Linked DNA regions of Homo sapiens. The protein of the gene in region 2 purifies or fractionates together with the protein of the main gene of each other region. This does not show direct contact. Each region holds a gene or a part of one and is shown on either strand. Other genes may lie near its edges. The genes, in order: CIAO2A and ALDH18A1.

Evidence for each region.
Region 1: the proteins of ALDH18A1 (region 2) and CIAO2A purify together in Homo sapiens (co-immunoprecipitation; one large-scale study listed by IntAct). This does not show direct contact.

The regions. Positions count from the first base shown.
Region 1 is NC_000015.10:64,076,676-64,080,496, forward strand, and holds part of CIAO2A (cytosolic iron-sulfur assembly component 2A), read right to left. Parts: intron 1-3,821. UniProt on the Homo sapiens protein: Component of the cytosolic iron-sulfur protein assembly (CIA) complex, a multiprotein complex that mediates the incorporation of iron-sulfur cluster into extramitochondrial Fe/S proteins.
Region 2 is NC_000010.11:95,611,407-95,615,227, reverse strand, and holds part of ALDH18A1 (delta-1-pyrroline-5-carboxylate synthase), read left to right. Parts: intron 1-1,066; coding exon 1,067-1,262; intron 1,263-1,364; coding exon 1,365-1,486; intron 1,487-3,785; coding exon 3,786-3,821. UniProt on the Homo sapiens protein: Bifunctional enzyme that converts glutamate to glutamate 5-semialdehyde, an intermediate in the biosynthesis of proline, ornithine and arginine.

The DNA.
Region 1 (3,821 bases), on a different chromosome or scaffold from region 2:
ATAACTTATTATAGTTAAAAGGGACCTTAAAGGTCATCTAGTCCAATCTTTTTTTTTTTTTTTTTTTTGAGACAGGTCTTACTCTGTCGCCTAGGCTGGAGTGCAGTGGCGCGATCATGTCTCACTACAGCCTCGACTTCCTGGGCTCAGGTGATCCTCCCACCTCAGCTCCCACACTCCCACCCCTCTCCTCCCTCGTCTCTATTTTTTTGTAGAGACCGCGTATCGCCATATTGCCCAAGCTGGTCTTGAATTCCTGAGGTTAAGTGATCCGCCCATCTAGGCCTCCCAAAGTACAGAGATTATAGGCGTGAGCCACTGCACCTGGCCCCAATTTTTTTTAAAAAACAAAACAAGCCGGGCGTGGTGGCTCATGCCTGTAATCCCAGCAATTTGGGAGGCCGAGGCAGGCGGATCACGAGGTCAGGAGATCGAGACCATCCTGGCTAACACAGTAAAACCCCAACTCTACTAAAAATACAAAAAATTAGCCGGGCGTGTATTACCAGCTACTCAGGAGGCTGAGGCAGGAGAATCCCTTGAACCCGGGAGGTGGAGGTTACAGTGAGCTGAGACTGCGCCACTGCACTCCAGCCTGGGTGACAGAGCGAGACTCCGTCTCAACAAAACAAAACAAAACAAAACAAAACACCTTTCTCCTAGTAGCAAAACACTCTTATTCTAGACCTCAAAGCAACAGGTATAGAATCACTCTATACTGACTTACTTCAGTTTAAAATTACACAGGACTCATTATTCTAAAAGTGATAAAGGGGAAAAGGCAGCATTTATGCAGCTATTCCTATATGAACTATACTTCAGGGTAACCAATTGATGAGGGGAGCTGTTACCAATAATGGGACAAACTGAATTTATAGGCCTCTGATGTGATGCAATGAGAACACATTTATTCAGTATTCTTGCCAAAAATGCACAAACTGAATCTAACCAGGAAACATCAGAAAACTCAATTTGAGGGACAATCTATAAAATATCTGGTTTACATTCTTCAAAAATATCAAGATCATGAAATAAAGGCTAAGGAACTACTCTAAATTAAATGAGACTAAAGAGACATGGCAACTAATGCAATGTATGATGGGGGAGAGGAGCAGAGCCAGGAGGAGGGACCGCCATGAAGGATGTTACCCATTGGAATACGTGCTGTAGATGAGATGACAGTACTGTATCAATGTCCTGGTTTAGAAATTTATACTGTGGTAATGTAAGAGAATGTCCTTGTTTTCAGGAAATACATCCTATAGTATTTAGAGTAAGGGGGCATTACAAATGCACTCAAACATTTCCAGAAAATATGTGTATGTGTGTGTACATATATAGAGAGAAATTAATGATAAACCAAATGTGGCAAAATGTTAACAATTAGTGAATCTGAATCTGGGTGAAGGATATATGGAATTTCTTTGTACTATTCTTCACTATTTTATTTCTTTTCTTTCATTATTTTCATTTCAAATAAAAAGTTAAACATTGTAATTAAAACAGTTAAAAATGAAAAATAAAATTTACAGGGCATCATAAACCACTAGTATAATAATTTATTAATTTACTCAATTTAAGACGTATTTATTGAGCTCCAAATATGTATAAGATCATAGCAGGAACACAGAGATGTATCATATATGAATCTTGACTTCAAGAAGCTGACAGCTAGCTGGTCAGGCATGGTGGCTCATGCCTGTGATCCCAGCACTTTGGGAGGCTAAGGCGGGTGTATCACCTGAAGTCAGGAGTTCAAGACCAAACTGGCCAACATGGCAAAACCCTGTCTCTACTAAAAATACAAAAATTTAGCTGGGTGTGGTGGTATGCGCCTGTAATCCCAGCTATTTGGGAGGCTGAGGCAGGATAATCGCTTGAACCCAGGAGTCAGAGGCTGCACTGGGCCGAGATCGCACCACTGCCCTCCAGCCTGGGCGACAGAGCGAGATTCCATCGCAAACAAAAAAAAAAAAAAAAGAAAAGAGAGAGAAGTTGACAGTCCAGGAGGGAAGATGAAAAACAAACAGAACACAAGTTAGAAAAGGACACTCTCTACATCAGAAGACAAAGAAAGAGCCACGGGGCTGGGTGCAGTGGCTCACGCCTGTAATCCGAAACACTTTGGGAAACCAAGGCGGGAGGACTGCTTGAGCCCAGGAGTTCACGAACAGCTTGGGCAACATAGTGAGACTCTGTCACTACAAAAAATAAAATTAGCTGGGCATGGTGGCATATACCTGTGGTTCCAGCTACTTGGGAGGGTAAGGAGGGAGGCTCACTTGAGCCTGGGAGATCAAAGGTTCAGTGAGCTGTAATCATACCACTATATTCCAGCTTGGGCAACAGGGTGAGACCCTGTCTTTAAAAAAAACAAAAAGAAAGAGCCACGGCAATTCAAAAAAAGAAATAGCTTTAGTTACAGAAATCAGGACTAGTAGTATGGAAAGGTGAATACAAAAAATAAAAAAAAAAATTTAAAAGATAAATAAAAATTCATCTTAAAAAGAAGAAAGAAATCAGGACTGATATCATGGAAAATAAAATAGTATTTCACTGGGCCTTAAAACGTGGGTAGGATTTGGCCAGGCCCAGTGGTTCATGCCTATAATCCCAACACTTTGAGAGGCCAAGGCAAGATGATCACTTGAGCCCAGGAGTTTGAGACTAGCTTGGGCAACAAAGAGAGACCTCATCTCTACCAAAAATTAAGAAAAAATTAGCCAGGCATGGCAGTGCACGCCTGTAGTCCTAGCTACTTGGGAGGCTGAGCCTCGGAGATAGAGGCTGCAGTAAGCAGTGATCACACCACTGCACTCCAGCCTGGGAGACAGAGCAAGACCCTGTCTCAACAGCAAACAAAAAAGATGTGTAGGATTTGAACATATGAGATGGGAGGAAGGGAACTCCAAGTAGACAGGGTACTCTGTGTAAAGGCTAGGTAGCAGCCAGGTAGAGAAGGCATAATTGCCCAGCAATTACAAGAGGCAGTAAGAGACAAGGCCGAATCATTCACGAGCGATAACCAATTACTATGAATTAACTGTGATATCCATATTCTTGCTCAATAGTAGGGTTAAAAACATCTTCCTCAGATTATCACACCAAAAGCACAAGTTAAAAAATTAAAAACAAATTAGACTTTATGAAAATTTAAAACTTTTGTACTGTAAAGGACACCATCAAGAAAGTGAAAAGACAACACACAGAATGGGAGAACATATTTGCCAATCATATCTGACAAGGGACTTGTATTTAGACTATATAAAGAACTCTTATAATTCAATAATAAAAAGACATCCTTATTTTAAAATGGGCAAAGGATCTGAATAGACAGCTCTCCAAAGATACACAAATGGCCAAAAACCACATGAAAAGGTTCTCAACATTATTAGCCATCAGAGAAATAAAAATCACAACCACCATGACAGCAGGGTGCAGTGGCTCATGCCTATAATCCCAGCACTTTGGGAGGCCGAGGCAGTGGATCACTTGAGGCCAAGAGTTCAAGACCAGCCTGGCCAACATGGTGAAACCCTGTCTCTACTAAAAATAAAAAAAAATTAGCCGGGAATGGTGGTACATGCCTATAATCCAAACTGCCTGGGAGGCTGAAGCACGAGAATCGCTTGAACCCTGGAGGCGGAGGTTGCAGTGAGCCGAGATTGCACCACTGCACTCCAGCCTGGCGACAGGGCAAGACTTTGTCTCAAAAACAAAAACAAGGCCAGGCACAGTGGCTCATGCCTGTAATCCCAGCACTTTGAGAGGCCGAGGCGGGTGGATCATGAGGTCAGGAGTTCAAGACCAGCCTGACCAAT
Region 2 (3,821 bases):
TCCTAGTAGTTGGGACTACAGGTGTGTGCCTCCAGACCTGACTAACTTTTGTGGATTTTTTGTTTTTTGTAGAGACAGGGTTTCACCATGTTGCCCAGGCTGCTCTCAAACTCCTGAGCTCAGGCAATCTGCCTGCCTCAGCCTCCCAAAGTGCTGGGAATGTGCCACCACGCCCTGCCTTTTGCCTATTCTTGAAATTTATATAAATGAGATCAAACAAAACACACGTTTATGTTGCCTGTCATTTGTTCGTTATGTCTGTGGCATTCATTCCCATTGTTGCATCTAGCAGTAGTTTTCTCATTTAATTGCTGGGTAGTGTTCCATTTACCTGCATATACTACAGTTCATCTTTTCTTCTCTTGATGAATATTTAGATTGTTTCCAGTTTTGGGCTATGTGGAATAAAGTTGCTGTGAACATTCTGGCACACATATATATTTGTTATAAAAGTAATATGACCATGTGGAGAAAAATTAAAAATCAAGAGAAAACAAAATGCCCATAATCTCAGTATCCTCTCACAGGCTCTTTAAGTCATTCTAATCCACATCCCAGGGTAGAAGTTGCCATCAGAAGTCATGAGAACCATGACTCCCTAGCAAGACCAACCCAACATTTCCTCAATGCTGTGAATAGAAAACCAACAGAGAAGCCACTCCCTTTTGTGATCTTCATGGCCTGGAGTAGTGTACTGCATTTAACCTCCATAGATACCCCTTTGTGCTGCTTCTGGCATTTTAAAAATTGTCTGCCCTGTATTATGGCTAGCAGTACCCTAGTGCTGCCTTCCCTACTTGATGCTGAGCTCTTTGACGGCATGCAGTGTCCTGCGTGATATGTGATGTGGAGCACAGCACCGAGTATATAGTGTTTGATAAGCATTTGCTGGACAACTTTTTGATTCCCATGATCGGGAACTTAATTTTGTTTTTAGAATAAGTTTTCACAGTGTCTCACTTAGTTCTCAGAGTGTACAGATGTTTATCTGTAAAAGGGAAGCTGCTGTTTTTATATTTTGTGTGGTCAGATGTCATCTTTATCTTTTTCTTCTTTCCTTCTAAAGGTGAATACCAGAGAAGAAGTTGAAGATCTTTGCCGCCTAGACAAAATGATAGATCTGATCATTCCACGTGGCTCTTCCCAGCTGGTCAGAGACATCCAGAAAGCTGCTAAGGGGATTCCAGTGATGGGGCACAGCGAAGGGATCTGTCACATGTATGTGGATTCCGAGGCCAGTGTTGATAAGGTCACCAGGCTAGGTGAGCTGGATGGGGTCTTCTCTTTCACAACGGAGAAATATTACATCCTCTGCAGCTCTGGATCATGTCAATGGAAACAATTCTTTGCTCATCTTCTTTCAGTCAGAGACTCTAAATGTGAATATCCAGCTGCCTGTAATGCTTTGGAGACTTTGTTAATCCACCGGGATCTGCTCAGGACACCATTATTTGACCAGATCATTGATATGCTGAGAGTGGAACAGGTAAGAGTTCCATAGGACTAGTACATTACTTCCTGTCTTAGAAGCCTGTGGAATTAGACCAGGCACAGCCATACCATATAAGGCAGTTTAAGAAACAATATTTTTTAATATCTTCTGTGTACAAAGTTCCATGCTAAGTAAAGTGTGAGTAAAACACAACCCCTGCCCTCTAGTAGTCGAACCAAACCAATACACAAATAGCTTTATTACAAAGTGGAATGTGTTGTGTGCTAAAGAGGGTTCAAAGGTAAGACAGACCACATGGCACTATGCTGACTGAACTGTTTCTGGCAACCTTATATATGCAAGGTGTTCCCAAGCATATATTATTTTTTGGATTTGATTTGAAAAGATGGTGCAGAAACGTTTCAAACCAAAAACTTATGTACATTCACTGCCTCCCCCCAGTGTCTTTGGTTACCAATATTAGTGTACTTAATGCAGTGATATTTGGGATTCAGTAATTTGTAGAATGTCTCCCTGGATTATGTTTTTACTATATTGTTAAGGTTGTAAACAAACCAAAAGCCAGTAAGTTTCAAATATAAAGTTGTGCTGTGTCCTAAATTCATGCCTGCAAGAAAATATAATAGATGCCCTCAAGGCAAAAATGGACAATCTGTTAAACTCTCTGCATGGATGCATTTTAAGCTTTAATTTCTGATGTCATAGTACACTTTCAGAGTTATATAAACCAGCATGGCAGTAGAGAAGGTGCTTGTTGGCCTTGGTTGCTTTGACTCTGAACATATGTCTCTTCCCTTCCATCCTTTGACTGGAAAGGAAGGCTCCAGTTAGCTTATAAATGTGGCATGGTCCCAGTGAGAACTGGAAAGAATTGTTTTAAAAATGAAACTGTACTCCATGGATTACAAGGAAGTTAGATCACATGGTCATTCATGTTCGGGGACCTTACTTTACTTTGGTAAGGAAGCCTGTTGATTGGGCACCTGTGTTTGCCAAGCACCACAGTGAACTGGATTAGACAGGAGGAAAGCTCTCCTTTAGCCAGGACTAAATCCCTCCCCAGACCTAATTTGAACACACAAGTGGTATCCTCAGTCATTAAAATGAGGATGGCCTTGAAATTCCAAATCAAAATGAGTCACTGTGTGTACTTCATACAGCACTTTTGGATGGCAGAAAGTAAAGCTAGAAGGATGACTTGCACAGGGATGGGGTTCCAGTCCCCAAGGAACACAGAAGAAGTGAGATCCCAGATAAGAAACAATGGCAGGGCCTCGGGAATCATGAGGATAAGGCAGACACCACTTATAACTTGAGCCAAGGCAAAAGCTTGATCCCAAAGAATCAAGGCATGAACCCTGTCCTGGGGATGTCTCAGAAAACAAGGTTTAAGTGGGATCCAGCTTGTGATTGGGATCCTCGGTGACCAGCCTCAGAATCCTTAAATTCCTCTAACCAGCAGCAGGATTAGAGCCAGAGCCTGGGGCTGAGCTGAACCTAGAGGTGGGGCCAGACTGACGCAGTTGGAAATCAAATGAGTAGCCACAGTTTCAGGTGCTGAAAGCACCTGACCAAGTACTGCTTACCTCTAAAGCAAACCTGGGACTTCGCTAGGGTACAGGGAGTAGCAATGTATATGTGGCACCTCCCTTTTTCCACACGAGTCTAGTGCCTAGGTACCATATGCAGGAACTGGGATCTTTATTGTCAAGTATTCATTTTAGGAAAATGCCAGAAGTCAAGCCCTTGTGTTGATAACCCACTAAACGCCTTGCACATTCTTTTTTATTCTTTTTTTTTTCTTTGAGACGGAGTCTTGCTCTGTGCCCCAGGCTGGAGTGCAGTGGCACAATCTTGGCTCACTGCAACCTCTGCCTTCCAGGTTCAAGCAGTTCTCCTCCTGCTTGAACCTCCCAAGTAGCTGAGATTACAGGCACCTGCCACCATGCCCTGCTAATTTTTTTAGTAAAGACGGGGTTTCACCATGTTGGCCAGGTTGGTTTTTGAACTCCTGACCTCAAGTTATCCACCCGTCTCAGCCTCCCAAAGTACTGGGATTACAGGCGTGAGCCACCATGCCCGGCCCACCTTGCACATCCTTAACGTTCAAGGCTTCCTGCTTCAATCCCTGTTCCAACTGTCTTGAGGGCCCATTGCTGGCAAGTGGCCAGTCAGATCATGCTGGAGGGAGGAAAGTAGGACTAGTTCAGTTGTTGAGGCTACAGGAGCCACTTTGGGCTGTGGTTTTACAGGCTCACCTTTCTGTTCTATCCTAGAACTTGCTTATTTCAGTTGTTTTTATGTTGTTGCCCCTGGACTTCCTCTGTTCCAGGTAAAAATTCATGCAGGCCCCAAATTTGCCTCCTAT